Linked DNA regions of Homo sapiens. The protein of the gene in region 6 purifies or fractionates together with the protein of the main gene of each other region. This does not show direct contact. Each region holds a gene or a part of one and is shown on either strand. Other genes may lie near its edges.

Evidence for each region.
Region 1: the proteins of FRMD1 (region 6) and BPIFA2 purify together in Homo sapiens (affinity purification with mass spectrometry; 2 studies listed by BioGRID and IntAct, with this or other methods). This does not show direct contact.
Region 2: the proteins of FRMD1 (region 6) and DSG3 purify together in Homo sapiens (affinity purification with mass spectrometry; 2 studies listed by BioGRID and IntAct, with this or other methods). This does not show direct contact.
Region 3: the proteins of FRMD1 (region 6) and DSTYK purify together in Homo sapiens (affinity purification with mass spectrometry; 2 studies listed by BioGRID and IntAct, with this or other methods). This does not show direct contact.
Region 4: the proteins of FRMD1 (region 6) and BPIFB2 purify together in Homo sapiens (affinity purification with mass spectrometry; 2 studies listed by BioGRID and IntAct, with this or other methods). This does not show direct contact.
Region 5: the proteins of FRMD1 (region 6) and MUC7 purify together in Homo sapiens (affinity purification with mass spectrometry; 2 studies listed by BioGRID and IntAct, with this or other methods). This does not show direct contact.
Region 7: the proteins of FRMD1 (region 6) and AMY1C purify together in Homo sapiens (affinity purification with mass spectrometry, with the first as the bait; 2 studies listed by BioGRID). This does not show direct contact.

The regions. Positions count from the first base shown.
Region 1 is NC_000020.11:33,166,647-33,171,186, reverse strand, and holds the start of BPIFA2 (BPI fold-containing family A member 2 precursor), read right to left. Parts: upstream 3,029-4,540; 5' UTR 2,978-3,028; intron 2,057-2,977; 5' UTR 2,042-2,056; coding exon 1,885-2,041; intron 1-1,884. UniProt on the Homo sapiens protein: Has strong antibacterial activity against P.aeruginosa.
Region 2 is NC_000018.10:31,446,096-31,450,754, reverse strand, and holds the start of DSG3 (desmoglein-3 preproprotein), read right to left. Parts: upstream 3,015-4,659; 5' UTR 2,878-3,014; coding exon 2,830-2,877; intron 1-2,829. UniProt on the Homo sapiens protein: A component of desmosome cell-cell junctions which are required for positive regulation of cellular adhesion. Required for adherens and desmosome junction assembly in response to mechanical force in keratinocytes.
Region 3 is NC_000001.11:205,170,200-205,174,081, forward strand, and holds part of DSTYK (dual serine/threonine and tyrosine protein kinase), read right to left. Parts: intron 1,363-3,882; coding exon of another isoform or gene 1,308-1,362; intron 1-1,307. UniProt on the Homo sapiens protein: Acts as a positive regulator of ERK phosphorylation downstream of fibroblast growth factor-receptor activation. Involved in the regulation of both caspase-dependent apoptosis and caspase-independent cell death.
Region 4 is NC_000020.11:33,014,073-33,017,954, reverse strand, and holds part of BPIFB2 (BPI fold-containing family B member 2 precursor), read right to left. Parts: intron 2,520-3,882; coding exon 2,459-2,519; intron 914-2,458; coding exon 853-913; intron 1-852.
Region 5 is NC_000004.12:70,478,449-70,482,330, reverse strand, and holds part of MUC7 (mucin-7 precursor), read right to left. Parts: intron 1,533-3,882; coding exon 453-1,532; 3' UTR 1-452. UniProt on the Homo sapiens protein: May function in a protective capacity by promoting the clearance of bacteria in the oral cavity and aiding in mastication, speech, and swallowing. Binds P.aeruginosa pili.
Region 6 is NC_000006.12:168,062,001-168,065,882, forward strand, and holds part of FRMD1 (FERM domain-containing protein 1), read right to left. Parts: exon of another isoform or gene 3,058-3,882; coding exon 2,871-3,057; intron 1,757-2,870; coding exon 1,601-1,756; intron 960-1,600; coding exon 894-959; intron 740-893; coding exon of another isoform or gene 671-739; intron 1-670.
Region 7 is NC_000001.11:103,748,289-103,752,833, forward strand, and holds the start of AMY1C (alpha-amylase 1C precursor), read left to right. Parts: upstream 1-1,609; 5' UTR 1,610-1,778; intron 1,779-2,135; 5' UTR 2,136-2,181; coding exon 2,182-2,349; intron 2,350-2,694; coding exon 2,695-2,841; intron 2,842-3,644; coding exon 3,645-3,842; intron 3,843-4,290; coding exon 4,291-4,521; intron 4,522-4,545. UniProt on the Homo sapiens protein: Calcium-binding enzyme that initiates starch digestion in the oral cavity.

The DNA.
Region 1 (4,540 bases), on a different chromosome or scaffold from region 6:
AGAACAAAGCTGGAGACATCATGCTACCTGGCTTCAAACTATACTACAAGGATACAGTAAGCAAAACAGCATGGTACTGGTACCAAAACAGACATATAGACCAATGGAACAGAACAGAAACTTCAGAAATAACACCACATGTCTACAACCATCTGATCTTCAACAAACCTGACAAAAACAAGCAGTGGGGAAAGGATTCTGTATTTAATAAATGGTGCTGGGAAAACTGGCTAGATGTATGCAGAAAACTGGAACTGGATCCCTTCCTTACACCTTATTAAAAACTTAACTCAAGATGGTTTAAATACTTAAATGTAAAACCCAAAACCATAAAAAACCTGGGCAATACCATTCAGGACATAGGCACGGGCAAAGACTTCATGACACCAAAAGCAGTTGCACCAAAAGAAAGCAATAATTCTTATAGGAGGAGGAGGACAAAGTGTCTTTATGATAGGTCTCTGGAGAACAGGGGGATGGGAATAAATGTCGTGACTGGGTGTGGTGGCTCACGCCTGTAATCCCAGTACTTCGGGAGGCCAAGGCAGGAGGATCACTTGAGGCCGGGAGTTCGAGACCAGCCTGGGCAAAATGGTGAGACTCCACCGCTACAAAAAATGTAAAACTTAGCCAGGTGTGGTGGTGTGCACCTGTAGTCCCGGCTACTGGGGAGGCTGAGGTGAGAGGATCAGTTGAGCCCAGGAGGTTGAGGCTGGCAGTGTACTCTAGCTTGGGTGACAGAGTGAGACCTTGTCTCAAAAAATAATAAATGTCATGATAGATACAGGATGATGCTCATGAAAATAATTAAGTATATATGAGAAGAAAATAATTCAAGTGAGAAACAACAGGGCAATTACTAACTTAAGGAAAAACAAAAGACTATACCGTATAAGAAAAGAGATGTAATCATAATATTGTAACTTGGCTCTGTAATGGACAATATCTACCTAGTTATAATGATTCAGAGAATGACACTTTAAATAAAATTGGTGATATAACTACGTCTAATCGTATAATTCACGAGGTGACTTTGGTTTAGACATTTCTGTCTCTGGGCCTCAGTTTTCTCAGCTGTGAAATTAGAGTGTGAGTCCTTTCTGCATCTTTGAAAGTTACCTAAGCCCTTGACAAGGTTTGAAAGGCAGCCATTTGCAGAAGTTACCTCCTCCTACAAAAACTGTTTTTGATGTGCTGCTAATGTTTCCATAAAACAAAAAGAAAGCCAAGTTATTTTAATAGGTTAGCATAAAAAGGAGGTATAAATAAATATAAAGGTAGGTAGCTTTACAGATACCAAGGCTAGGTAGGGATAATTTCCTTAATTTTCACTGAATTAACACAAGTCCATAAAAGAATATTAAACAACCCAAAAGAAAAATATGCTAAGAATATAGACAAAATCCTCAAGTTAAAATATGTAAGTACATAGTAAATATATGAAAAAAGAAGAGGGCTCCTTCATAATTAGAGGAATGCAAAGTGAAATAAGTTATAGCTTTTCATCTGTGAGACAGGCAGAATATTTAAAGTTGTCCATACCCAGTGCTGGAAAAGGAGTGGGAAAAAAGGCACTTTCGTAGACTGTTGGAGAAAGTGTTAACATAGGAGATTATTTGTCAACAGCATAGTTTTTGAACTTTTGAAATCCCACTTGTAGGAATTTATCTTATGCACGTTTATCAGGATATAATATGTAAAAGGCTATTCATTGTGGCATTGCTTGTTTCTAGAAAGATAAACGAATGAGTCAGGAATTGAATAGCCACTTTTCTCAGTAAACCGCCCATAAAGAGTAGCCCCTGGTGGCAGCCTCTGGTAATGCAGGCATAGTGTTTAGGAGGCTAATTTAGGTGACACTGTTCATCACCCTTGTTGATTTACCTTTAAGAGTATTGTCAACTGTCTCAAGTCCCTCGTGAAGAACAGGTTCCAGCTTATCCACGACATTGCTTAGGTCATTGCCAAGATTGTCAAGAAGAGACTCTGAGGTCCCAGTGAGCACGCCGCACAGGAGAACAAGTTTCCAAAGCTGAAGCATCTTTTGTCTTGACACCTGGACAGTCATGGGAAGAACAGGAGTGAGAATTGCCCAGAGGGAAATGGACTCTTCAGTGAGTTCCCATCACTCTTAACATTTAGCATTCCATTAAGATAGATGTGGTTATTTCCTATTTTACAAATGGGCAGCCAAGGTCAGAAAGCTACAGCAACTTGCCCGGAGACACACAGTCAGTGAGCAGAGGAGCTGGGATTTGAAAAGTCAGACTTGACTCCAAGCCCATACTCTTGACACAAAGTTCCTTTTCATACGCTGTCTTCTCTGCCTAAAATATTTTTCTTCTTCTTTACTTTTCCACTTAGGTCAATTCCTACATCATGCCCTCTGTGAAGCCTACTGTAGGCCCCTTCCCAGATTCTAGGTTGGAGGAGTCCCACCTTGCTGCCTTCATTATCCTGATCAAGGTCTTGGATAACACTTCCCTGATGATTTGACCACCTTTCCTACCAGGCTGTGAACTCCTTAGAGGAAGGACTGTGACTTATTTCACTGTCGAATCCTCAGGCGCCAGTAAAAAGCCTGCACCTAGTACAGTACAGTAAACGAATAAATCTTTGTTGAATATAAGTATGAACAAATCAATGGAGACCACCTCATGACCCTGCATTGTTCATTAGTTTGACACTTATTTTAATATAATCTATAGATCTCTAAATTTACTCTGATTTGCCATTTGTCTTGACACCTGGACAGTCATGGGAAGAACAGGAGTAAGAATTGCCCAGAGGGAAATGGAATCTTTAGTGAGTACTCATCACGAACTTGCCATTTAGAGCACATTTAGAGATATATTGATTATCTCTGCTGTATTCAAAATATTAGCTAACCCAAGCAATCCCACCCCTCTGCCTCTTGCCCCCAAAGCCTTCCAAAGACCACCACGTGTGGTGCCACTGGGGGGAGCACGCCACTCACGCGTTTAGAGGAGGATGCTCATGAAATCCTTGCCCCACTGCACAGTCTGCTGGGATTCTGCTGAATGGTGGCGGCTATTATATGGTGGAGATGGGATGGAAGGCTGCCCACAGAAGCAAGCCTTGGTTCTGGGATCATCCAAGGACACTCCAAGGAAAATAACCCCTCTCCAGGATGAGCAGAGAGAGAGATTTCCAACTCAAAGGTCACCCAGGATGCTTGAATTGAAACGGATGGCTATGGAGAGGGCTTTCCGCCAAGACTAAGACCAGGTCCTCATGGAGCCTGCAGCTACCGAGGGGGTGGTCCTTGGTCCTTGTGGGTGAGGACTGGGAGAAGACTGAGAATGAATGAATTGGAGAATGTCCTGGCAGGAGGACCCATAATGACCATCCGGTCTAACTCCGTCATCATTTGGAAACTGAGGCTCAGAGAGGGGAAGCCACCAGCCTGGGGTCATTCAGCAAGACAGGGACCGAGATGGGTCTAGAATTGTGGCCCACAAGGAGTCAGACAGCCTCCCAGGGGTCCTGCCCCCAGGGGTCTGCACCCGGCAGGTGCAGCAGATGCCTGGCAGCTGCTTGTGCTGACACTGGGCTTGGTGTCCCTAAAGGGCACTTTAGATGCACTTTTCTGTTAGTCTTTATGAAAACTCTGTAAGGCAGGTTTTCAGAGCTCCATTTTCCAGTTGAGAAAGCTGAAGTTCAGAGAGGGAGGTGGCTTGTCCATACTTGCAAGGACAGGAACCAGGCATTTGGGCCACCAGGGAAGACCCTTCCACCCATATCAGGCTGAGGTCAGTTAGCAGAGAGGGAGAGTCCCTGGGCCTGAGTATCCTGTTTTTGCTTCGGCCACTGATGTTTGGGTTGGTTGTAACGCCTGCTGCATTGGGCCTGTGTCAACCCGGAACAGCACAGGAAACTCGGGTGGGTGCCCACTTGGCCTCAGGCTGGGAAGGACTGGCACAGAGCTCAGGGTCACCATAGGTCTCTGCCCTTCTGCTCACCCACCTGCAATTCAGCAAGGACCTGGGGGGCCTGTCCTCAAAATGATGCAACCAAGCAAACGGTGGGACAAGACCAGTGGCTCCAGGAGCTGGCTGTTCCTACACTGACCATGGCTCCACTGTTACAGCACAGAGCTGGGCGGCTGCAGGAAGGTGATGGCCAGGCCCCAAGAGCCCAGACCATTAGACCCCTGCTGCAGTCTTGCCTGTGGTCTTGAATGGTTGTCACACCTCCTTCCCTGGCTGCCTGACACCGGGTTCTCCAAACGTCTGAGCCCCGCTCTTCCCCCAGTTGTGAAGCACAGAGCCAAGGGCTGTGCTGAAATCTTGTGAAGGCAGTTTGTCCCAGCCCAGGAACATAGCCCAGGGTGCTGAGCATGATGCAGTGACCTCGAGACCTGGTGTTGGCCCAGGCCTCAGTTGCCTCATCTGTAAAATGGGTAAACACGCTGTTCCTGGATCTCAGAGGCATGGTGGACAGGCAAGGACCTAGGAAATCAAAACGATGGTGAGGGGCTTTGAGGGCAGTGCTCAGAGCCTGGCACTGGGCTTGGGCT
Region 2 (4,659 bases), on a different chromosome or scaffold from region 6:
ACCATTTTCATTAGGCAGGGGGTGGGGTGTGATTCTTATTTGACAGTTGAGGAAACAAAGCCTGTAGTGAGTCAGTGGCATAGCCAGAGATTTAAGTCTATGACTTTGCTATTATTTCTCACTGTTCTGGGCAACCCATGTATGGTCATTGGATGGTGGATTATTACAAAACCTTCAAACACATCTGCCAACTTTCAGAACCCACCCTGCAACAACAAAAAATGAGCATTCCCACTTGAGAATGCTTTAGAAAACATTGCTTTTCCCCCCCATGACCACATTATTTCAAAACTCTGGGTGGCTCCCCACTTGTAAAAGGTTTCCATGAGCCTTCACAAAATGCACTTTTCAATCTGACCCTCAGCTGCCTTTCCAATTCATGTCCAGATTCTCCAAAGCAAACTGTCATGCTAGTCATACTGGTGTGTCCATTTCCCCTAGGCAAATCCTAACTGTGCCTGCCTTTGATTATACTCTTCTGACAACCCAAGAGATCTCCTTTTGGCCCGTCCATCTATACTTATCCCAAATCAGCTCAAATTTCACTGAATCCATAAAGACTTGATTGCCTCTCTCCTGACTGACACTGCCTTCTATCAATAGCATTAATAGTAGACCAGTACTGTCCAATAGAAAGCTAAAAACCACAAATGCGAACCACATATAATTAAAAAATTTAGTCACATTTAAAACGTTTTTAAAAGGTGAAATGCATTTTAACAATACGGTTAACTTAATCTAATACATCCAAAATACTATCATTTCAACATGTAATCAACATAAAAAATTATTGACATATTTTACATTCTTTTGTTCATTCAAAGTCTTCTTCAAATTATGATGTATATTTTATATTAAATAGCACACCTCAACTCAGACCAACCACATTTCAAGTGGCTTAAAACCACATGTGGCTGGTGGCTACCATATGGGACAGAGTAGGTCTAGACCACTCAGTTGAACAATTATGTATGAAGTTATACTGTTGTTTAAACAGCATGTGTATGTAAAATTTTCTTGAGTGGAACCAAATACATGTCATTTCATAGTTTCCTTTATGACTAGAATTATAGGGACATTGTGCGGGGGTTTTTTAGTTTAGAGAAGGCTCATTAAATCATTCATTTACTCATTCTTCAAACAATTGCATGTCCACTCTAAGACAGATATAATAAGCATTGAGAATATAAAAATAAAAATTAGCCTCAATATAAGGATGTCACAGTCACTCCAGAATCAGAGGAGTAATTGAGAGTGTCCTATATGTCAAATTAGAAAAAAAAAAGAATCCCCCTTAGCTTATGGTGGCCCAATCCTATGTCCTCATGGCAATACTATCCCGACAGCCCATGCTGCATGGCCCCTAACTTCCTGAGCTTTGCCATTGGCTTGGACATAGGGGTTATCAGACCACCTGGGGTTCAGCCCAGACATTTCCCATCTGGAAAGGTGGGAAAGTCATACAACTGTCACATTTCTCTTTAACAACATCCTCCTTTCAAATAAAATCAGGTACTGAACACAGTTACATTGTCGTAATAGAAATAGAATCTTAGAGGCTGGGTGCAGTGGCTCACATCTGCAATCCCAGCATTATGGGAGGCCGAGGTGGACGGATCCATTGAGGCTAGGAGTTTGAGACTAGACTGGTCAACATGGCAAAACCCCATCTCTACTAACAATACAAAAAAATTAGCTGGCTGTGGTGGTGCACGCCTGTAATCTCAGCTACTCAGGAGGCTGAGGCACGAGAATCACTTGAACCCCAGAGGCAGAAGTTGGAGATCGCACCACTGCACTCCAGCCTGGGCAACAGAGCCAGACCTTGTCTCAAAAACAAAAACAAAAACAAAAATCTTAGGGAGAGCTAAGAAAGTCCTTTCTTGAGATCTATCTCCCTGTGACTTCTTGAAGTCCATTTATCTCAATTTTTTTCATGAAGAAATGAGGTAAATTGATGCCTAGGCCAACCCAGCTTATCATGGAAACCATACAAATTAGCATTAGGAATTGTTTTGACATTCATTTTTAAGGTATATTTAACTATTTTGATATCTCCGTGTAACAGATAATATTGTGACTTTTCTTTTTTTTTTTTTGCTATAAGAACACAGTTAAGGAGTAAGTTAGTCTGTAACATCCAGGTTTTAAACAGTCTGTAACATTCCGTTTCTCTTTTAGATAATACTATGTACGACTTTCTCAATCAACAGAAGTATTACTTTTCTGAAAAAAATGGCTTTAAAATGTTGTATGTCTTTCCCCCCATCCCCAAAGGCTGACATTTTCTTTTGGCACATAATAGCTAAACATAAATACTTACTTAATAATCCTCCCAACTTCTCTAGAGTCAAACACTGCTTTGATTTTAATTCTGCGATTTTTTACTTTTAAAAGCGTGTCAGGTATCAAGCCCAGGCGTGTAGAGTTCTTAGCTATATGCTAAGAGACATGTAATCTTGGAAAATAGAAGTGGCTCCTGTGTTCTTGTTTGTGGGTTAGAAAAACTAGTAAAAGCATAACTTTAAAGAAAGTGAAAATGTTGTGGAAAATATAACCTGTGATTAAGATTACTTAATTCATTAACTAAAAAAAATTCTAAATGGTTTTTAAAACTCATTTCTTTCTGGTTTATTTTTCTATGTAAAATACAACATAAAAAACAACAAAAGAAGGAAATTGGTAATCTTCACGATTTCATTTCAAAGTGTTGATTTCCACTGCACTCCTTTTAGAATTTATAATAAAGATTGTGCAATCAAATATAATATTCTTTAACAAGGGAGGAAGCAGGGAAGTTTGTGATTATTAGGAAAATCCAGGACTTACCACGAAGATGGCCAGAGCCCCTGTAGTTCTGGGGAAGAGCCCCATCATTGTCTCTGATTTCCCTGGTGAAAAAGTCCAAGTGAGCCGCTGCTTCTATCCTGCCAGCCGTCTGCAGTTGATGTCTAAGAAAAGCCCTCTGCAGCGTCTCTGCTGCTTTCCGAAGGAGTCTACAGATGGTCTGTTATGCGGTCCCTCCCCACCCTAAACCAAGGGTAGGTCTCACCAGAAACGCTTGCATCACCTTTGCTCCCAGGTAAAAACTTAGCCACACCTCGATTCCTAAAGCAATGAAATCCTTTGTTGGAAGCTGAAAGAAAAGTTCACAGGCTAAAGACAAAGTTTAATAGGAAGGTACCAGATGAATAATAAATTAATCATGATGTGGAAGTGCAAAAGCTAGTCCGGACTACACTTTGTCAGTGTTGATGTCTTATGGCTGAATCTAGTTGACTATGGTTACAATGAAAACCGAAAAGCAAAGCAAAACGTACAAAATCCCCCAAAATCTAACTTGTAAAAGAGCATTTATTTTCAGCCTGAGTATGTGTGGGTAGATCTAAAGTTAAGCAAAATGTAGATGTTAAGCAATGATATATTTTATTGAAAGGCACTAAAAATATGAAGAAGAAAAACATCCCATTAAGCAACTATGAATGTAGGCTTTGAATAAAAAAAAAAAAAGAAATAAAATTGAACAGTTATATGGTGCCTTGAATATTTGAAATATATAAATAATGCGTTGCAAAATTACTCTGATAATACTCAAATGACATCTTTTATACTGTATTTCTTTTCATTTATAACTTTCAAAAAAGCCTAGATTGCCTAATAAGGTAGATTATCTTGGTGCTCTTTTCATTACTCAAGACATTTTCCCCAGTGTGGTGAACCTGCTTGCTGTTACATACTCGGAAGTGCTTAAATACTTCGACTCTAACCCAAGATAAAGCAGAGGGGAAAAATTACCAGCCCCATTTTAGCTACTTTGCTTATAACATTAGAATTTAAAGTACTTTTTACAGTTTCAGAAATATTGAAAGAAAGGTTTGGTAGAAGAGCAATTTTATCTTTGCAAGTATTACACATTAGGTTTTAGAAACCACTTAATCACAGTTTTTTTTTTGAATCGGGGTCTCGCTCTGTCGCTCAGACTGGAGAGCAGTGGCGCGATCTCGGCTCACTGCAACCTCTGCCTCCCGGGTTCAAGCAATTCTCCTGAATTGAGGAGGCTGTCTCCTGCCTCAGGCTCCCGAGTAGTACAGAAAATGAAACATTATTCTTATTTATTTATTTATTTATTTACTTACTTACTTACTTGAGACTGCGTCTCTTTGTGTTGCCCAGGCCGGAGTGCAATGGCGCGATCTCGGCTCACTGCAAGCTCCGCCTTCCGGGTTCAAGTGATTCTCCTGCCTCAGCTTCCCGAGTAGCTGAGATTACAGGCTCCCGCCAACTCGCCCGGCTAATTTTTGTAGTTTTAGTAGAGATGGGGTTTCACGTGTTAGTCAGGATGGTTTTGATCTCCTGACCTCGTGATCCTCCTGCCTCAGCTCCCAAAGTGCTGGGATTACAGGCGTGAGCCACCGCGCCAGGCCAATCACAGAGTATTTTAAGCAGAAAGGACTGTGTAGTCTAGGAGTTAGAAAAAACATCTTGTGAACAAAATTTTGTTTTTGTTTCTTTTTAAATTGTGGTAAAATATACATAACATAAAATCTATCATTTTAACTATTTTTAAGTGTACAAATCAGTGGCATTAAATATATTCACATTGTTGTGCAACCATGACCATTACCACTCTTCATTTCCAGAAAAGTCTTGGTTTTGAAA
Region 3 (3,882 bases), on a different chromosome or scaffold from region 6:
ACTGGGAGTGAGTCGACCTGGGGCACTCCTCCCCCTCTTGCTCTCCTCTGACACCTCCATCCCTGCCATTCTGACCTGGCTAACTCCTAAGCATCCTTTAAGTTTCAATGTATATGTTATGACATATCCTTATAGAGCCTTTCCTATCACACAGCCCCAACCAAGCACACTTTACTTCCCTCTTCTTAAGGTTCAACATATTTATAATCCACTTCTTTAAAACCTTTCTTTCCCCCATGGGTCTGTAAACTCTTTGAGGGCAGGGACTGGGTCTATTTTGCTTACTATCGTAGCTCCAGTGCCTAGCATGTGGTAAGTCCTAAATACTGTTGAATTAATCAATTAAGCAGGAAACGAAAAGCCAGGTTCACCAAACATTATTACTGTCCTGTTCTGAGTCTGTAGATATCCCGAAGTCTTAGCAACCTAAGTCTAAGAAATACCTTTAGGAATATGATCGATCACTTGGTATGGCAAAGACCAAGGTTTGCCTATCCAATATCTAGTCTCCATGTTATAAGTGAAGGCAATGTCCTTTACAGATAGGGGTATCCGATAAGTGGGTGGGGTTTCCAGGAAAGCCCTTTAGGGTACAGGGGGTGGATTCTACCAGGAAATATGTCCTTTGGCCTTGTCCTTCTTCCTGCTTGGAGCACAGATGTGACAGCTAGAACAGCAGCGATCACTCAGCAGCCCTAAGGCAAACCTGATGGTGGAAGCCAGCACTAAAGATGATGACACCAAAAGAAAGAGGGAGCTTAGGTCTCTGGTGATCACAGAACTGCCATGCCAGCTCTCAGTTACCTAGCTTCAGACTTCTTTCATGTAAGGAAAAAAAAAAAAACCCAAAAACTCTATCTTTAAGTTCCTGGTTTTTTTGTGTTTGTTTGTTTGATGATCTGTTACAATTGAACCTAATCCTAACTGAAATACCCAAGTTTGCTAAAGTGAGTTTCGAGAATGATCTTTAAGCTCGGCGCAGTGGCTCACACCTGTAATCCCAGCCCTTGGGAGTCCAAGGCAGGAGGATCGCTTGAGGTCAGGAGTTTGAGATCAGCCTGGCCAAGATGGCAAAACCCCATCTGTACTAAAAATACAAAAATTATCCGGGTGTGGTGGTGGGCGCCTGTAGCCCCAGCTACTCCAGAGACTGAGGCAGGAGAACGGCTTGAACCCAGGAGGCGGAGGTTGCAGTGAGCTGAGATCGCCCCACTGCACTCCAGCTTGGGCGACAAAGCAAGACTCTGTCTCAATTAAAAAAAAAAAAAAAAAAAAAGATCTTTGAGGTTTGAGGTTTAGAAACAAACCTTCCACAGGTCCTTTGCCTCGTCTGCACTTTCCACTTTGTGTTCTGCTTCTTTCCTGTGAAGGTTCCAAACACACAAGAGCATATGTCCATCTACTGCATTTCCATCCATTGCACAGGTTGTTCCTCTGTGTCTCTGACATTGTCTACTTTGCCTGGCATTCCAGGTGTAAACGGTTAACTAGGGACTCACACATATTAATATATTACCACTGTAGGTACACAGACTCCTGATGTCTTCAAGGGTCTGTAAACTCAGAATCAATCCTCCATAGAATTCTAGCATATTTTAGAGTTATAAAAGAACTCAACACAAATATGCTCAAGTTTGTGTCCTTAACAGTTATCAGATGTTGAATATTTACTTTGTCTGAAGTCTAAAAGATACACAATTTCGTTTCTTTCAGATGATTATGCTGTTTTTATTTCTTACCCTATCTGAGCAGCAGGTTTATTGATTGATTGATTGAGATGCAGTCTCACTCTGTCACCCATGCTGGAGTGCAATGGCACGAGCTCGGCTCACTGCAACCTCTGCCTCCTGGGTTCAAGTGAATTCTCCTGCCTCAGCCTCCCGAGTAGCTGGGATTACAGGCACGCACCACCACGCCCGGCTAATTTTTGTATTTTTAGTAGAGATGGGGTTTCACCATGTTGGCCGGGCTGGTCTTGAACTGCTGACCTCAAGTGATCCACCTGCCTCAGACTCCCAAAGTGCTGGGATTACAGGTGTGAGCCACCACACCCAGCATGAGCAGTAGGTATTTTTGATAAAAGTTTTTCTGTTTGTTTGTGGTTTTTTTTTTTTTTCTGAGACAAGGTCTTGTGCTGTTGCCCAGCCTGGAGTGCAGTGGTGCAATTAAGGTTCACTGTAGTCTCAACCTCCCAGGCTCAAGTGGTCCTCCCACCTCAGCCACCCAAGTAGCTGATACTACAGGTGTGAGCCACTACGCCCAGCTAATTTTCATTCTTTTTTGGGTTTTTTTTTTTTGGTAGAGATGGGGTTTTGCCATGTTGCCCAGGTTGGTCTTGAACTCCTGAGCTCAAGCGATCTGCGCCTCAGCCTCCCAAAGTGCTGAGATTACAGGTGTGAACCACTGTGCCCAGCCTTGAGTTTTTAAAATCTTTTTTATTTCCAACAAAGCACAAATATCTCACTTTCTTTTCTCACAAAGAACTATGCTATATTCTCAGATAGGTCACATAACTTTAATTTGCCTGGCCACTTTGAACTCCCTAAAGCTCAAAGTGCTTTTAGCATCTCACCATTTGTCATTTTAGCAAACACTACATAAGTCAATCCACCCTTTATCCAACCCCAAGCCAAGAAGAAATTTGCTGTTTCATCTGTGTCTCAAGTTGCATGGAATGTTTTCTGGTTGGAAGACTAGTCTGATGCTCATCTTGCTATTCAAAACAAACCCCCTTTCACTACCCTGAGTCACACATGCTACAGTATGAATCATTTCAGTCAGGCATATTCAAAAAGTTGGTAAGTAACAAATTTTAAGGTTTAAAATAGAACATACAACTGCATAAATGACAACATTATAATCACATATAACAATGAGATAAAGACTAAAAGGAAAGGAAAACAGTTACATTAGGCTGGGTGTGGTGGCTCACACTTGTAATCCCAGCACTTTGGGAGGCTGGGGTGGGCAGATCGTTTGAGGTCAGGAGTTCAAGACCAGCCTGGCCAATATGGGGAGACCCCGTCTCTACTGAAAATACAAAAATTAGCCAGACATGCTGGTGCACACCTATAATTCCAGCTACTCAGGAAGCTGAGGCAGGAGAATTGCTTGAACCGAGGAGACGGAGGCTGCAGTGAACTGAGATCACACCATGCACTCCAACCTGGGTGACAGAATGAGACTGTCTCAAAAAAAAAAAAAAAAAAAAAGAAAAGAAAAGAAAACAGTTACATTAAAGTAAAGAATTATAGGTGGAAATATTTTTTATATTACAAAGCTGCCCTAAAGACATATTTTTTAAAAGATATAAATCAACCAATCAAATTTATGAAAGGAAAGCCTAAATATTCAAAACCAAAGTATTGTTTAGAAATTTCAGGAAGAATTTTGTTTGTTTTTTCTGATGGATTATCTTAAAATTCTAGAATAAATTTTCAGGTTTTCCTTAAAGGACCATTTTGTGTGCACAACAGAAACATCAGCCAAAGCTGCCAAGTCCATTTGTAAGACCAATACGGTTGTTTTTTTTTTTTTGAGATGAAGTCTCGCTCTGTCGCCCAGGCTGGAGCGCAGTGGCACGATCTTGGCTCACTGCAACCTCTGCCTCCTGGGTTCAAGTGATTCTCCTGCCTCAGCTTCCTGAGTAGCTGGGATTACAAGGCATGTGCCACCATGCCCAGCTAATTTTTGTATTTTTTGGTAGAGATGGGTTTTGCCATGTTAGCAAGGCTGGTCTTGAACTCCTAACCTCAGGTGATCTGCCTGCCCCAGCCTCCCAAAGTGCTGGGATTATAGGCGTGAGCCACCATGCCTGGCCCAATACTGTTTTTAAGAGACCAGCTGACTTTATTTGCTCATAGGTGTAAATTCATTATTAAA
Region 4 (3,882 bases), on a different chromosome or scaffold from region 6:
CAGTCCAGGCACAAATATCCCCTGACAAAGGTGAGAAGCAACCACAGAAAAAGAAGAGAACTCTCACTTATCAAGGTCCAGATGCTTGACTTACAGCATCTCATTCAATCCTCGTTACAATCCTGTAGGGTTATTTTATACACACGTATGCACACATGCACACTCACACGTACGCACACACGCACACGCAGTCTGGTGAGGTTCAGTCTTGCCCAGGATTGTAATACCTGGTCAGTCTGACCCCAAAGCTATGCTCTTCCCACCTCATCACACTGTCTCCTATGAGAACTCCAAGAGCACACACCACTGGGGCCAGTTATGCAAGATCACAGAAGTCCAGCTTCCCTAACAGACCCTCCGAGCAGCCTTCAGGGAGGCATGGCTCAGAGCCCAACTCCTCTGAGCCTCAGAATACTCTTGCAGGGAAGTTTCAAAGGGCGAGGCCAGGGGTGGTGGCTCATGCCTGTGATCCCAGCACTTTGGGAGGCCGAGGCAAGAGCTGGTCTTTGGAATGATGAGTCTAGATTCTAGAATGATTCCAGATTCTAAGTGTCAATGGTCCTTGGATTCTCCAATGTTAAGACTCATGATTTCAAAATTGTATTTTGTTTTTCAGATTTTTTGATCTAAGATACACAGATTCTAGAATCAAAGACTTGGTTTTGGTTCTAGAATTTGGAGATTCCCAGATTTCATGAATAATTACACTGTTTTGGGAGCTCACAATTCAGTCACCCTACAACTGACTCTCCTAGAGGTCGACCGTGATCCAGAGTGGAGCCTTTGGAGGGTTCTAGGGGCTCCAGGGGGTCCCAGAGGCCCCAGCCCCCTCCCCTGGCTCCCAGATCTTACCAATTAAGGTGCCCAGGTGGACATTGACACCCTGCACCAGGTTGGAGATGCTCAGGCACAGCTGTGGTAAGACAGAGAGAAGGAGGCTGGGGTTAGGGCAGCCCTGGGGCTGGAGGGCACAAGGCTGAGAGGGGTCTAGAGTCCCTGTCTAGAAGCCTCCCCAACCCATACACCATGCCTGGAATCCCTTCCTCCACCCGCCAGTGGGCATCTCCTGGGACCCCTTCCAGGCACCGAAGAAACAGAGGAGAAGCAACCCAAAGGCTGATGGCAGTGTGAGCATAGGTCCCCAGGCACGGAAGAAAGAACAGAGGCCGTGGAGCCCAGCCCAGGTGGTCGTAGCTGGGCCTGAGCAACGGAGGCAGGGAATCTGCTGCAACGGGGCTGAGAGCTCAGTCTTGAAGCTCAGCTGGTGAGAGGGTGGTGCCCATGCAGAGGCAGGCAGTGATCAGCAAGCCAGACCAGGCCAAGCTTCAGATGCCAGGCCAGGGAGCTACAGAGGTTTTCCCTGGGCACCATGGGCAGCCAGAGAAGTACATTATGTTGGGATCAGTGTGATAGAAGATGGGGGCAGAGGAGGAACTGCAAGGCCAGGGGCACTCGCAGCCTTAACCAGGCAAGAGCTGGCGAGACTGGGCAGGGCGAGGTCGAGAGGAAGAGGAGAGGGTGGGTCTTCCTTCCTGCAGTGCTGCCTGAAGCCCCTTGCCCAGAAGAGGCTGGCTATGAGGGCAGCAGGGGGACTACAGGGAGAGGAAGAGGCTGGACCAACAGACAAAGTTAAGCTGTCCACTTGGGCATCCCGCAGGACTCTCAAGAGGAGCTGCCCCACCTTCACCCCTCGAGCCTCGGTTTTCTCATCTGTAAGGTGGGCATGTTGCAGTCGCCCTCTGGGGGGTGTGGGGTGGCATGCAGGAGGTTGACTTCGTCTCTACTACTGCCCCTTAAAGCAGTAGTGGGGTTGGGATGGGATAGGGCAGAGAGAAAATGAGCTCCCCCTGGGCAGTGGGACCCTAGCCCCTGGGCTACCCTCTCTCACCAAGTCAGCTCCACGCAGACAATGACAAGAGCTAAAATAGTAATAATAATAGCAGCACCCACTCTGCCAACCACTGTCCCGAACTCTTCTGAAATGTTAATGCATTTCATGCCTGCAACCACCCCACGGAGGAGGGGCTTTGTCTCTTTCAGTACAGATGTGGAACCAGGAGCAGAGACTGCACATCTGGAAAGGACCAGGACCCGTCCAGGCCACAGGTGGCCCCATGCCCACACCCTCGTTCACTCTCGTTCTGTCTTCTTTTCACAAACCACAGGCCCATGAACCCCACTCCATCCACCCTCTAGCATGAAATTGGGGCTGCCCTAAGAGGATGAACCTCCCCCTCCCCTCCAACCCCATAAACTCTGCCCTCATTTGTGCCTCCCCATCACTCCCCTGGACCTGGCACCAGCCTTTTCCCTGCCTTCATGGGGACCATGAAGGGGCGTCTTTTTTTTTTTTTTAATCCCAAGCAAAGTACCCCCTGCCTGAAATCCCACTCTTTCTTCACTGTGCCTTCTCGGTGAAGCCATGCCCTCCTTTCTGAGAAATCTGCAAGCCCTTTACCTTGTTACTCAAGACAGCTTTAATGTGCTTCTGCACCAGGACCAGCAGCGCGTGGGAGGTGCTGAGGGAGAAACACAGAAAGAGTTCCTGGGCTCCCAAACATATTAAGTCCCGTCACTCAGCACAGTCGCACGTCTGGGAAGAGAAGTCTCTATCCTCAGCCAGGAGGCCAATCAATTCCATTCGATGCCCTGCCATCTGCCAGACACAGTGCTGGCATAACTGGCCCCATAGATGAGGAAATTGAGTCTCAAAAGAGAGGGTCATTTATCTCAAGGTTTGGAAATGGCCAAGAATGTGGCGCGTGAGACAGAGAGGGCGTTGCAAAAGCCAGACTTGGCCATGACCTTGGCCAGCTGGCTTCGTGGCCACTCTAAGCCCAGTAAAGGTTGGGTTAGGGGGTAGAGCTGGGATCCTGGGTCTGCTTCATGCTTTGGGTCCAATTTTCTGTGACACACCTAATAAAATCCCTTCCTGACTCTGGGCCTCCGTTTCCCCTCTAAACAACTCAACAGTGCTCCATAGGCACCTATAGTTCCTTGATTTGCAAAAATGTCGATCCAAGCCACAGCCCAACCTTGCTGAACCAGCTCCCTGGGGGGGAGGTGGGAGGGTGGCCTCTGTGTTCCCAAAGCCTCTGGGCTTCCATTTCCCCTTCAATAAGCTGTGAGCATCCCCTGCCTGTAAGGACAGTGAGGGGTCGTGAGTCACACGTGGTGATCATGCGACACAAGTGTGAATGGGTTTACGCAGCCACATCCCTCTCTGGGGAGAAAGCTCAGTCTTGATGCATACGTTGCATTCTTCTAAGCCTCCAAGATGCTCAACACCTCAGCAAGCCCCGCTCACATTGGGAAGGTGCAGACATCGTCTAGGGGGATTTGCAAGCCATGGGATTAGTCGGGCTGCCTGGGCCTGAATGTGGTTACACCATTTGTCAGCCGGTGGCCTTAGGCAAGTCACTTAACTGCTCTGGGCCTCCATTTGCGCTCCTGTAAAATGCAGGAAATACTTAACACCTACCTGGTAGGATACTGTGAGGATCAAACGAAATGATCTATGGAAAGGGCCTGAACAATGCTCAGCACACATAAGTGCTCTGGAGGCGGGAGCTGCCATCAGCCTTTATGCAGAAGGGAGCGGCCTGGCCTGCGAGAGCTGGCTATTGGTGGGTCCCAGGCCCTCCCTGGCTTCCTTTCCCTCATCTCTGCTAGGAGGGGTGGGTCTCCGAGGTCCTCACAGCCAGTCTGATCCACCCAAAATCCCTCCCCAAAGAGTGTGCTAATAGCTAGTGTGTATTGTCAAGTGGTGCAGGGGATGGAAAGGTCCCAGGCTCTGGCCGCTCACTTGCTGTGTGACCTCAGGCATGCCTCTCCCCCTCTCTGAGCCTCAGTGTCCTCCGACATAAAACAAGCACAATAATG
Region 5 (3,882 bases), on a different chromosome or scaffold from region 6:
CTATCTACAGATATTTAGATGTCTTTGTTCATCTGGAGAGTTCCAATTTTACCCCTTTATGTTTATAGGATTAGATGGTTCAGGTGGGATTTTGATGGGGGTACAAGGTAGTGGTTTTGTAGTTTCTAACATTCAGGGAAAAGTAAATGGTTGATGGCCCATACAATATTCTCTCTTTATCTAAGGACTTTCTTTGCCCTCAGTAGGCTATCTCTGTAGGATCCAAAGAGTTATTTTGAACCCCAGACCTGCATCTGGCTTGTGGGATAGAGGCATTTTGTCTTGTTAATAGGTCTTGTGGTGGTGAATAATTAGATTGAAAGATTAATGATAGTGCTTTAAATCTGAGTAATATAATTTCATGTTGGGATTGGTGCTAAAAGAAAGGTGGTAGTTCTGCACTCATGAATCACATCTTGTAAATGACAGAACACTTTACAACATACAATATACTATTGCTCCACCATGTCGTCAATAATTCTGTTTAGTAGATTCTTCATATATAAAAGAAATCGAGAAATTTTATTTTGGCCAGGAGCTGAAGTTGGTTGTTTAGTAGTAGTAGTTTGAGTAGTGACCGAAGTAGTAGTCTGGTGTGTGGGTGCAGCTGAAGTTTCAGAAGTGTCAGGTGCAAGAGTAGTTGGGGAAGAATTAGGTGTGGTAATTGGGGCAGCTGTGGTCTCTTGTGGAGCTGGGGAAGACGGTGGAGCTGGTGTAGTTGCAGAAGGTGTGGGTGGGGCAGCTGTGGTCTCTGGTGGAGCTGAGGCGGATGATGGGTCTAGGGTAGTTGCAGAAGGTGTGGGTGGGACAGCTGTGGTCTCTGGTGGAGCTGAGGAAGATAGTGGAGCTGGTGTAGTTGCAGAAGGTGTGGGTGGGGCAGCTGTGGTCTCTGGTGGAGCTGAGGAAGATGGTGGAGCTGGTGTAGTTGCAGGAGGTGTGGGTGGGGCAGCTGTGGTCTCTGGTGGAGCTGAGGAAGATGGTGGAGCTTGTGTAGTTGCAGAAGGTGTGGGTGGGGCAGCTGTGGTCTCTGGTGGAGCTGAGGAAGATGGTGGAGCTGGTGTAGTTGCAGAAGGTGTGGGTGGGGCAGCTGTGGTGTCTTGTGGAGCTGGGGAATTCACTGGTGCTAATGTAGCTACAGAAGAGCTTGTGTTAACATTTTCTCTTGAAGATATGGTGGTGGCATTCTGGGGAAGAAAAGTCACATTTGGAAGGGTAGTAATTTTGGTGGAAGCTGATGGGAAAGTCACAGATGGAATTTGGGTTGTAGCCACTAAGGTAGGGTTGACCACACTGCTATTTTTATCTGGATGTTTAGGTGGCTGGTGAGGATTTGGGAATTTGGGGGGGTTATTAGGTGAAGGTGGAAGCTTAGGCCTACAGCGTTTGTGCAGACATTTATAGGACTTTCTAATGAACGGCTTCTGGTGAGCTAGCAGTCCAGGATAATGTGGTAATTCAAAGTGAGATTTGGGTGATTGGTGATGATGCCTTCTGTGACGTAGTTCATGATCCCTTTCTCGACCTTCACTGAACTGCAGAAAAGAAAGAAAATGTAAGAAATGAAAAAAGTATCCATTTATCAATCAGGTGATCACTGCTGACCATGAGATGAGCGGTATTTGTGGAATGCTGGGATTAGAAACCAGAGTACATTATTGAGTCAAGTGATTATCTTCCTAATTTCACCAAGTTTCAAGAAAGAATTGCTACTAGAGAGTTTTCTTTTGTCAAATGTCTACTCTCTAGATAGCTGGGATGAATATATTCCTGTGGGTTCTAGCTTGAATGCTTAGCTGGATACGAACTTTTGTGCTTACAGTTCCTCTCTTCTTCCTCTGGTGGAAAATGGTCAAGTTACTGCCTGAGGTCCCATCACAAAAGCTTCCTGCTTGCTCAGCCTGTTCACAAAACTTTAGTCAAAGACATTCAACTGAGATCCAGGAGCCCTTTCTAGATTACACCCCTCATATCTACCATCATCAAAATACGAAACAGCCAAACAACAACAAAGCCCCAACAAACAAAATATCCCACCCCGGCTTCATGTTCTCCATATTTCAGGAAACAGTTTTTAGCCTTTATAAATTGGAGAAACAACTTTGGTCATTACCTTTTAACTTTATTGTTTAAAAAATTAGAATTATAGAATTCATGATTCGGGGGTTCATGAGTCATCTGATTTTTAGAGAAAATTTGCATGTTTATGCATTTTGTCTGGATAGAGCACCAATGGTTTTCATGATTTCTGAAAGGTGTTTACATCTGAAAAGAACACTGATCCAGTCCAACTGTACATCTGATACTTGATCTTTTATCAATACACCTGCTGAAAGGCTTTCTAGTCTATGCATCTAACCTCTTCTGATTAGGAACTCACTACTGTAATTCCTAAGGCCGCCTGGTAGAGAGTTCTTGACACTGAATGTAGGTTTGTTTTTTGGGATTTTCATTCTTAACTGAGTAGAATTTTCTTCATGAAGATTTCCATCCTTTGGTCCTAATTTTGTTTTGGCAGATTTACAGAAGATCCAGAAGTCTTTCAAAATTTGAAAATAACTTCTATGCCATGTGGGTCATCATTTTGCAAGATATTTTTATTTCCTTTAGCCATTGCTGACATTATTTGAGTTAGAGTACCATCACTGTTTCAGTTTCTTATCTGTAAACATACTTCATGCCTTTTATATCCCTCTTCCCTGTATTCAATCTCATACTACATTTTTTAGTGATCAGTTATATTAAATTGGAGAAAAGAAATATAACAGGATAAATGAGAACATCCCAAACAAGGATAGGTTACGTTTTCTTCCTAATGATGTTCACAGAAGCCCTTTTTAGATGACCAAATGGGTAAATCATTCCAGTCGCAAGTTATAAAGCTTTCTTTGGACACAAAGTTTAGTGCAGATGAAGTGACAACTTCTGAGAGACTAGCTGAGTTGTTTAACTAAGATAACTTCCTCAGAGACTAATATATCCAACCTCAAAAATAGCTTCTAGGTACTGGGCTTTCAGAGGTGAATGAAACAGGGACCATCGTGAGGCTCATGTGATTGAGGGAATGAACCACATAACTATTTCAAAGCAAAGAGGTCATAGAATTAGATTTTGGATCTGGAATTTAATTTAATCCGAATCATTTCATAAATGAATAAACTGAGATCCAGGCATATTAAGTGACTTGCCCAAAGTCATTCAATTATTCAATGCCAGACATAGGACAGACTAAAACCTCCACTGCTGGTCTGTTGCAGTGTGTTTCAAATATGTTCCTCTAAGATCTGGACATTCTCCACAACATCCATCAATACAAGAAAGTATTATTTGTTTAGAAAATTAAATTGTCCAGGAAATTTTAATTCACAACTGAGAACAACCAATAGCTAACATAATGGCTTCTGATACTCACATGACTTTGGTATTTTTCCATAAATCTCTCTTAAAAGGGCATAGGTTTTCAGAATCGGTAACACTGACTCCAGGAATCTCTGAGGAGATCCTTTCCATTACAGGGGTAGTTGTTTTCTCATATAAAATAGAACAGGTCATATTGTTCAAACAGATCTTTCCCTGGAGATTGAATATGCAATCCACATAATTAAGGACCTGCTCTGACTGAAGCAGGATTGAGGGCCTCACATTCCATGATCTCGGTCTTTCCCTTTCCAGATGGTCTCTGAGGATGTTGCAAAGAATGTCCAGATCTTATAGGAACATGTATGAAACATGCTGCAACAGACCAGCAGTGGAGGTTTGGCTCTGTCCTGTGTCTGCCACTGAATAGCTGAGTGACTTTGGTCAAGTCACTTAATGTGCCTGGATGTCGGCTTATTCATTTATAAAATGATTTGGATTAAATTAAATTCCAGATCCAAAGTCTAA
Region 6 (3,882 bases):
GTTGCCACTCCACAGGTGGAAAACCACGCTAGCCACAGGAAAGGATGATTTTAAATGTCAGCCATGGCCCCCAGGGGGACGAGGCCCAGGTTTTCACTTCGCAGTGCAGATGGCTGTTGGCGGACACTGTGCGCGGACACTGTGCTCTGCTCCGCCCTTGCTTGAGAGGACACAGCCCTCCTGGCTAGAAAGTGCCCGCAGCAGTGTGAGGGGAGTGGAGGTCTGGGGTGGGACAGGAAGACCTCGGTCTGGCTGTCCAGAGCAAGCCTGCTGTCCAGCAGCCCCCACAGTCACTGCCCTTTTATCCCCGGCACCCGGGCTGTGGGGTGACCCTGGGTGACAGCTCTGGGGCCGGGATGAGAGGAACAGAGGCCACACAGGTGCGTTTCTATGACCTGCTCTTCTTTTCTCCCTTGATTTTCTCAATTGGGAGCCAGAAGTTTTCAAGCGATAACAACAACTAGACCTCACCGGGCAGCTAAACACCCCACGCCTGCAGGGCCAGGGCCAGGCACAAAGCCCGTGAGGCCAGGACGGCCCTGATGCCCCCGAGAGGCCGGCAGGAAGGGACCTGCACCTCTTCGGGTGCAGAATTGTCCAGAAAATGCCCCGAGGATGAAGCTGCATCTGCCCAGGCTTTCCAGGGCACGGGGACCCCCCAGACACCCACCAGAAATGCCAGCTTCCCAACGTGGGGCCAGGGGAGGTCGTACAGCAGCTGCGGAGCACGGTCCACCTCCTGCGGGACAGCAGAGGCAGGGCGCGTCCAGGCAGGGCCAGCCAGCGCCCATGACCGCTGCAGGGATGCTACACAGCCCAGACTCCAGTGGGGAAGGGAGGAGGGGGTGGGGGCAGGACGAGGGGCTCTGTGAGGCTGGAGCCCCTTCGGTCACCTGGTAGATGTGCACTCCCCTGAGGGCCAGTCCCAGGATCACGGTGGGACGACCTTCCTTCTTATCCTAGAGGACACAGGTCAGAGGTCAAGTTGCAGGCCTGGAGGTGCTGGGCCTCACTGATGGCAGAGTATGGTCAGTCTGGCTAGGGGCCGAGGGCTCCATGGACCAGGCTGAGCTCTGGGGCCCATTTACAGACAGTCTCATTCACTCCAGCATCAGATCAAAGGCATAGTTGTCATAGCACAAGCACTGCCTTTCATCATGCCAGATAAACACCAGCCACGACCTAAGAGAGCCTGGCCATGCCGGGCCCGGGGTCCTGGTCCCACTCAGCCACGGGGGCTCCATCCATCCCTGCCCTGGGGTCCTGGTCCCATCCCACTCTTAGCCACGGGGGCTCCATCCATCCCTGCCCCGGGGTCCTGGTCCCACTCTTAGCCACGGGGGCTCCATCCATCCCTGCCCTGGGGTCCTGACCACTCTTAGCCATGGGGGCTCCATCCGTCCCTGGCCTGGGGTCCTGATCCCACTCTTAGCCATGGGGGCTCCATCTATCCCTGCCCCGGGGTCCTGGTCCCACTCTTAGCCATGGGGGCTCCATCCATCCCTGCCCTGGGGTCCTGATCCCACTCAGCCATGGGGGCTCCGTGCATCCCTGGCCTGGAGTCAGAGTCCAGCCCATCGCTGGCCGCCCTGGGCTCGACCTTGTGCAGCCTGAAGAAGTGCACGGGCACGTCCTCCAGCCGGCAGGCCTCCTGGATGAAGCACAGCATGGCCTCCTTGGGGCTCAGGCCCTGGCGCTCACGGTGCAGGGTAGGCATGTGCCGGAGGATGTAGTCAATCCCCCTCTTGGTGATGATCTGAGGACAGAGCCGGGAGGTCAGCTCAGACCCCTGCTGGTCCCCCCTTCCTCCTTGCCAGCCCCCTGCTCCGAGAAGCTTCCCCAGACTCCCACAGCTGGTGCCAACCTCGGTGGGCAGGGCCAGGGCCTGGCTGCTGAGCCCAGAACCAGAGATGAAGTCTCAGTGCCCACTGTGGCCCTGGGCCCTGTCTGATTTCCTGTCCCCCTCGGGTCCTCCCCAAGGGGAATGGCAGCAGCCAGCCCTCCTCAGACGTCTGCAGGTGGGGACTCTACTCCCAACGAGCCCTGGCTCTTGGGAACCTGCCCAGTGAGGACCAGCTGGGGCCATCACCGGGACCGGGGTAAGAATCGCAGGGACGTGGAATCACTGAGGGTGGAAATGTGCTCAGAGGCCAAGGGCACGTGTGGCATCCACAGCACTGGGAGGAAGCCTGGCTGGGCCCCACCCTGACCTCAGCGACTGCCTCAGAGCAAAGGTGAGAAGGCCCCAAGGTGCACAGGATAGAGAGGTACACAGGGATGAGCGGTCAAGGAGAGAAACCTTAAAGTTCACCCGGAACAGGGCCTGCATCCCCGGGGTGACAGCCATCAATCCGCGCGGCCATCAGGCCAGACAGCGCCTGGGACTGGGCACACAGTGGTACAGCCCACGCCTCTCCATGGCCCTCCTCCCAGGGGGATGCCACTCCTTCCCTTACAGGTGAGGAAGCTGAGGCTCAGAGACTCCTACGGGTCCCAGGATACTTAGAGAGAAGCAGGAAGGTTCACAGCCACAAGGCCCGTGTGGGTCACATTCCACAGCCAGGCAGCCAAGGGGCTCAGAGAGGTGAAGCCAGAGTGCAAGGCCACACAGCTGGCTGGGTGCGTCAGGAGCACAGGCACCCACACCTGCCTGCTCAGGGCCACTCCTCCCACACTGCCTGCCTTTGGGGGTGGTAAGGACCCTTGGGCCTTCAGGACAGAAGGACAGGTGATTGCCCTGTTTCCATCCCTGACCCTTGCTCCAGCAGCCCCTGCCAGGCCCTCAGTCCCCTGCTCCCATGGATGGCACCCGGTGGAGGTGGACAGGCACCAGACTAGCAGTGCTGGGAGGAGGTGGGCCCTGACCTTACCCACTGTGGGAAGTAGGAGTGTGGCTCGAAGTACCTCCCGGCATGGGCCGACTCCCGGTGCTCGCCCAGGTCAGCCTGCAGCGCGCAGGCAGCCAGCAGGAAGTAGGCTTCCTCCCGGTGAGCGCACTGTGACCTCAGCACGCGCTCCTTCAAGTGGCAGTAGTACAGGTGCCGTGCCCTGTGGTCGCTGGAAGGTGGCAGGGAGTGAGTTCCAGGACGACCGGTGTGGGGACTGCTGGCCCCTCTGGCCCTGCCTTGTCCCTCCCCACACCAGCTCCCAGGGCTGTCCTGAGCCCCTGGTACCTAGTTCCTGTCTTGTTATACCCACAGCTGTGTCCCTGCAGGGCCAGCACGGCACAGGCCCACACTCTTCCTGGAGCGGGGCACAGGTGACTTGCTGCCACCAAGGAGCCACTAGATGAGGCTCCACCTGCCGAGGTCCCACTCCTTCCCCAGTGAGCTTGGCCTTCACCAAACCAAGCCCCAGTGCAGGAGAGGTGCACAGAGCCCGGGCGACTCGAATCCCTGGAGGTGCACAGGGCCTGGACAACTTGAATCCCTGGATGTGGACAGACCTGGCTCCCAGAGCTCACCGCCCAGCACGGGGCTTGGCCATGGCTGGTATTCATTAATCACAGGCCAGGTGGAGGCTCGCCCAAGATGCAGGTGCAAGATCTTCTCATATAATTCCCCCGAACTGGCCCCATAGCACCAGGTAGCTCCATCCATCAACCCAACACTTTCCAGACCTCCCCTCCAAGGCTATCCAGAACCTTCCACATATTCACACACCCCTCACTCTCCAGAACCTGCCACACAACCACATACCAGTGTCTCCAGGGCTCTCCACACAACCACACACCTTTCACTCTCCAGAACCCTCCCACACAACCACACGCCCCTCACCCCCTAGAACCTTCCACACAACCGCACACATGCCTTTTGGAACTGGCAGGGATTGTGCCTGCTTAGGGAATTCCTGGGAAACCCCCTTAGGTTTTCCCCCAGGGTA
Region 7 (4,545 bases), on a different chromosome or scaffold from region 6:
AGAGGTACATGAGTAGCTGGTGGCAATCAGCCTAAGTAGGATTCTGAGTCTGGATAATTCTTTGAAGCAAGTCAATTAGGGCTTGAGGCTTTTCAGTGTAAGATGGAGTGTTATTTTTCCAGTTGAGTAGTTCAGCAGAGGTAAAAGGGTGATACACAAAAGCATGCCTTTCTACCGTATGTCTGACCTCATCTGTCCTAGTATATCGCTGCTCTCTCAGGGCATTTGAATTCCCGTCTTGGGCCGTTAAGCGGGCTGCCAGGGAAGTGGATTTTCCCGCAGTTTCACTTTTGTTCTTGTCTACTCTGGGTGGTCTAGGGGCTGTGGGCTCAGGAGAAGGGGGCCTCCCCACTGGATAAGGGGTTGAGGGCACTGTTGGTGCCATCTCCTGCCTTGAGTCCTCGAGCTCTGGGTCAAACAGAACTTTAGGTGCTGGCTTCTCTTGGCCGGTGGAGCGAGAACTTTCCTGAAATAAATGTCCCTTTGCTACTACTACTGCTGCTGCCTGTCCTTTTACCACTGTAGAGGATCTAAAACTAGCTGTAACTAGGAATCTCTATATGGAAATTGATATGGGTGCAGGCACACCATGAGCGATCAGGCCAAGCTTCCGCTCAGGTGGAGTGGGGCAAGTTGAAAAGACTTGTCTTACTAAGTTTCAGATGTCTGGACTCCAAGTGCCAGTTCCTTCCTGGTGTTCAGCCACTGTGTTAATCCTCCGCGGGGATCACTGCTCTGGCGAGGCGTTCAACCGGGGCCATTTCCTACCTGGGAGCGCTCTTTGGATCCCATCCCTCAGGCTGGCCAGAGTCCCTGGCAGCCTGAGGGATGCCCCGGCCTTACTCCACAAGGCATGCCTAATCTGCCTAAGGAGCTGCCTCGGCCGTCCATCAGTTATCTTGCTTCCAGGTCAGGGAACCAAGAAATGTAGCAGGACAAGCGGCAGACAAAACTCTCAGACACCGAGTTGTAGAAGGAAGGGTGTTATTCACCTGGGAGCATCGGATAGCTACTGTCTCAAAATCCGAGCTCCCCAAGTGCACAATTTCTGTCCCTTTTAAGGGCACACAGCACTAAAGATGTCACATGAAAGGGTCGTGATTGATTTGAACAAGCCAGGGATATGCGACAAGGACTACATGCACCCGTGGTCAGGGAGAAACAGAATATGGAAGGGAGTTTCACAATGTTCTTCTATACAATGTCTGGAATCTATGAATAACATCGGCTTCTAAATCATAAGTTGATTTGTAACTACTGGGTTTAGGCCAACCAGGCCCAGGCCTGGTTTTGTGCCTTTGATTTTGCTTCCTTGTTGTTTTTACTGAATAGAAAACAATATAAAACAAGAGGACAGGGTCTTTCTCTCTTCTCAATATCAGCACTGGATTGTAGAACTTGTTGCTGATTTTGGCCTGGCATTCAAGTTAACTCTTCCCCTTGGTATCTGTACATACCTTTGATGTCAGTGTTTAGTACACGTGGCTTGGTCACTTCATGGCTAAAAACGTGCTTGTGGAAGACAAGTCTGGCTTGGTGAGTCTGTGTGGTCAGCAGTCTCTGATCCGTGCAGGGTATTAATGTGTCAGGGCTGAGTGTTCTGAGATTTATCTAGAGGCTGGGAAGGGCTCCTGAACCAGTTGTTTCCGTCTTGTCGGTCTGTCAGGGTTGGAAAGTCCAAGCCATAGGACCCAGTTTCCTTTCTTAGCTTACGTTATCTACCAGAGCACCGTGGGCTGTTACTTGCCTTGAGTTGGAAGCGGTTCGCATTTATACCGGTAAATGTATTCATCCTTTTAATTTATGTAAAGTTTTTTAGTATGCAATTCTCGATCTTTTAAGAGTTGACAACAAATTTTGGTTTTCTGCTGTTATGTGAGAACATTAGGCCACAGCAACATGTCATTGTGTAAGGAAAAATAAAAGTGCTACCATATGCAAAAAAAAAAAAAAAAAGAAAAGAAAAGAAACATTAATGTCTAAGAGGTCATTGAGATGATTTCCATGAGAGACTTTTTGATGTTCTTCACCAGTTAGGATTATTATTGATAATCCTTTTCAGATTATGAATAAACAGTTTGCCCTCAAGTATTTATTCATGCTACTATTTACATTGTAAAATGTGCTTCTTACAGGAATATAAATAGTTTCTGGAAAGGACACTGACAACTTCAAAGCAAAATGAAGCTCTTTTGGTTGCTTTTCACCATTGGGTTCTGCTGGGCTCAGTATTCCTCAAATACACAACAAGGACGAACATCTATTGTTCATCTGTTTGAATGGCGATGGGTTGATATTGCTCTTGAATGTGAGCGATATTTAGCTCCCAAGGGATTTGGAGGGGTTCAGGTGGGTATGATTCATAGTATCAATTGCAGAATTCACTGTGCTTGTAGTAAACACTATTCTGATCTTCTACGTGAAGCTTGGGCAACATTTTACTTCACAGGTAAGTATTCTAAGTAAAAGAATTTTCTGAGGAAAAAACAATGTAGTATTCTTTGCAACTGTATATTTTGTTTCTGATATAATCTTTCTTCAACAAGAGCCCTCCGATGTGCTGTTAATATTTTCAAGAGATAGCTGCCTATACCAAGATTCAAGAATCTTTTGTATTATTGATTAGATTCTAGAACATTCAATGATATACAGTAAGACAGAATTTGGTACTTATGAAGACTGTTTAATTTGTAGGTCTCTCCACCAAATGAAAATGTTGCCATTCACAACCCTTTCAGACCTTGGTGGGAAAGATACCAACCAGTTAGCTATAAATTATGCACAAGATCTGGAAATGAAGATGAATTTAGAAACATGGTGACTAGATGCAACAATGTTGGGGTAAGTGAATTCTAGTTTCCTTTAAAAATAACAGATAGGAAAATGATTTCTGTCTCTTCTTTCTTGCTCCTTTTGAGCAGAAAGTTTTCCATATCAGTTTTAATTTTACTTCATACTTTAAAACTCAAAAGTAACTGTCACCTTATGTTCAATTTTTGAAAATATTTGTATATGTGCTCTCTACTAAAGAGATAAGTTAAAGTTTATAGCAGAGTTTACTTCTGAAGCAAAACATCAAATTTTAACCGCTATAACTATCCATATTTCCTGGAAGGATTTTCTGGTGAGGAATTTTAATTCCAGTTACAATATTTGCTCTCATTTTTAGATGACTTGTGTCTCCATTCCTAATTCTTGGGTTTTTTTTGTGGTGAATAGGTAGCTTATCTATTTAATGAGGAGCAGAATTTGAGATGAATAGCTACCTTATTTGTCTTCCAAGCTTAGTAGAGAGTACAGGCTTTCTCCTGGTGACCCACTGAAATTTCCCAAATAGTAACCTTTTCAGTCTCATCTGAGTTGTGTCTCCCCAAAATGGGCTTTTTGCCTTTCCTCCTATTTATGGTAGTTTCCGGTTCTCTCAGTTTATCATTCCTATATATATTTGGCCAAGTGTCTGGAATGAATGTAGGTGTTTAGTTCACATTACTTTCCTTTCACAGTTGATTTTTGATCTTGTAGGAAAATAGTTATAAGGTATGAAATATTTTGGAATTTTATTAGCACACTATAAATTTAATCAATAATTCTTTAAATTTCTGCCTCTCTGTAAGTCACACTGAATTAGAAACTTTGTTTTCTAGGTTCGTATTTATGTGGATGCTGTAATTAATCATATGTGTGGTAATGCTGTGAGTGCAGGAACAAGCAGTACCTGTGGAAGTTACTTCAACCCTGGAAGTAGGGACTTTCCAGCAGTCCCATATTCTGGATGGGATTTTAATGATGGTAAATGTAAAACTGGAAGTGGAGATATCGAGAACTATAATGATGCTACTCAGGTAATTTTTTTACGAGAGTGATCTGAATAAGGAGTGATATATGCCTTTTGTTGTAGACATGTAGCTAATTGAACTTCGTTGTAAATATGAATTTAGATCTCTTAGGGACAGAGGTTAACAAGTTTGACTACTTTAAGAAACTCAAATCCATATTTGAAAACCTTTAAATATTGATTTAAGATTTTTAATCAATACACATTTGTCCACTTTTAAAAAGCTCCCAACCAATTGAAAAACTCATCGACTTTATTTCCTAAGTTCTCTATTTTCTATTAGAAAATATTTCCAAGATACATCTATAGTAGAATGTGAGCATCCCCAGTGTCCAATGCAAGGAAGTCACCATAGAATATCTCTTGAGGAATCATGGAATAAATGAATAATCAAATGGATTCTCAGGCGAAAAGTGAGGTTTTATTAATCAATCATAACATTCTTACCTCAACAGGTCAGAGATTGTCGTCTGTCTGGTCTTCTCGATCTTGCACTGGGGAAGGATTATGTGCGTTCTAAGATTGCCGAATATATGAACCATCTCATTGACATTGGTGTTGCAGGGTTCAGAATTGATGCTTCCAAGCACATGTGGCCTGGAGACATAAAGGCAATTTTGGACAAACTGCATAATCTAAACAGTAACTGGTTCCCGGAAGGTAGTAAACCTTTCATTTACCAGGAGGTACGTCAATACATATAGGCATAT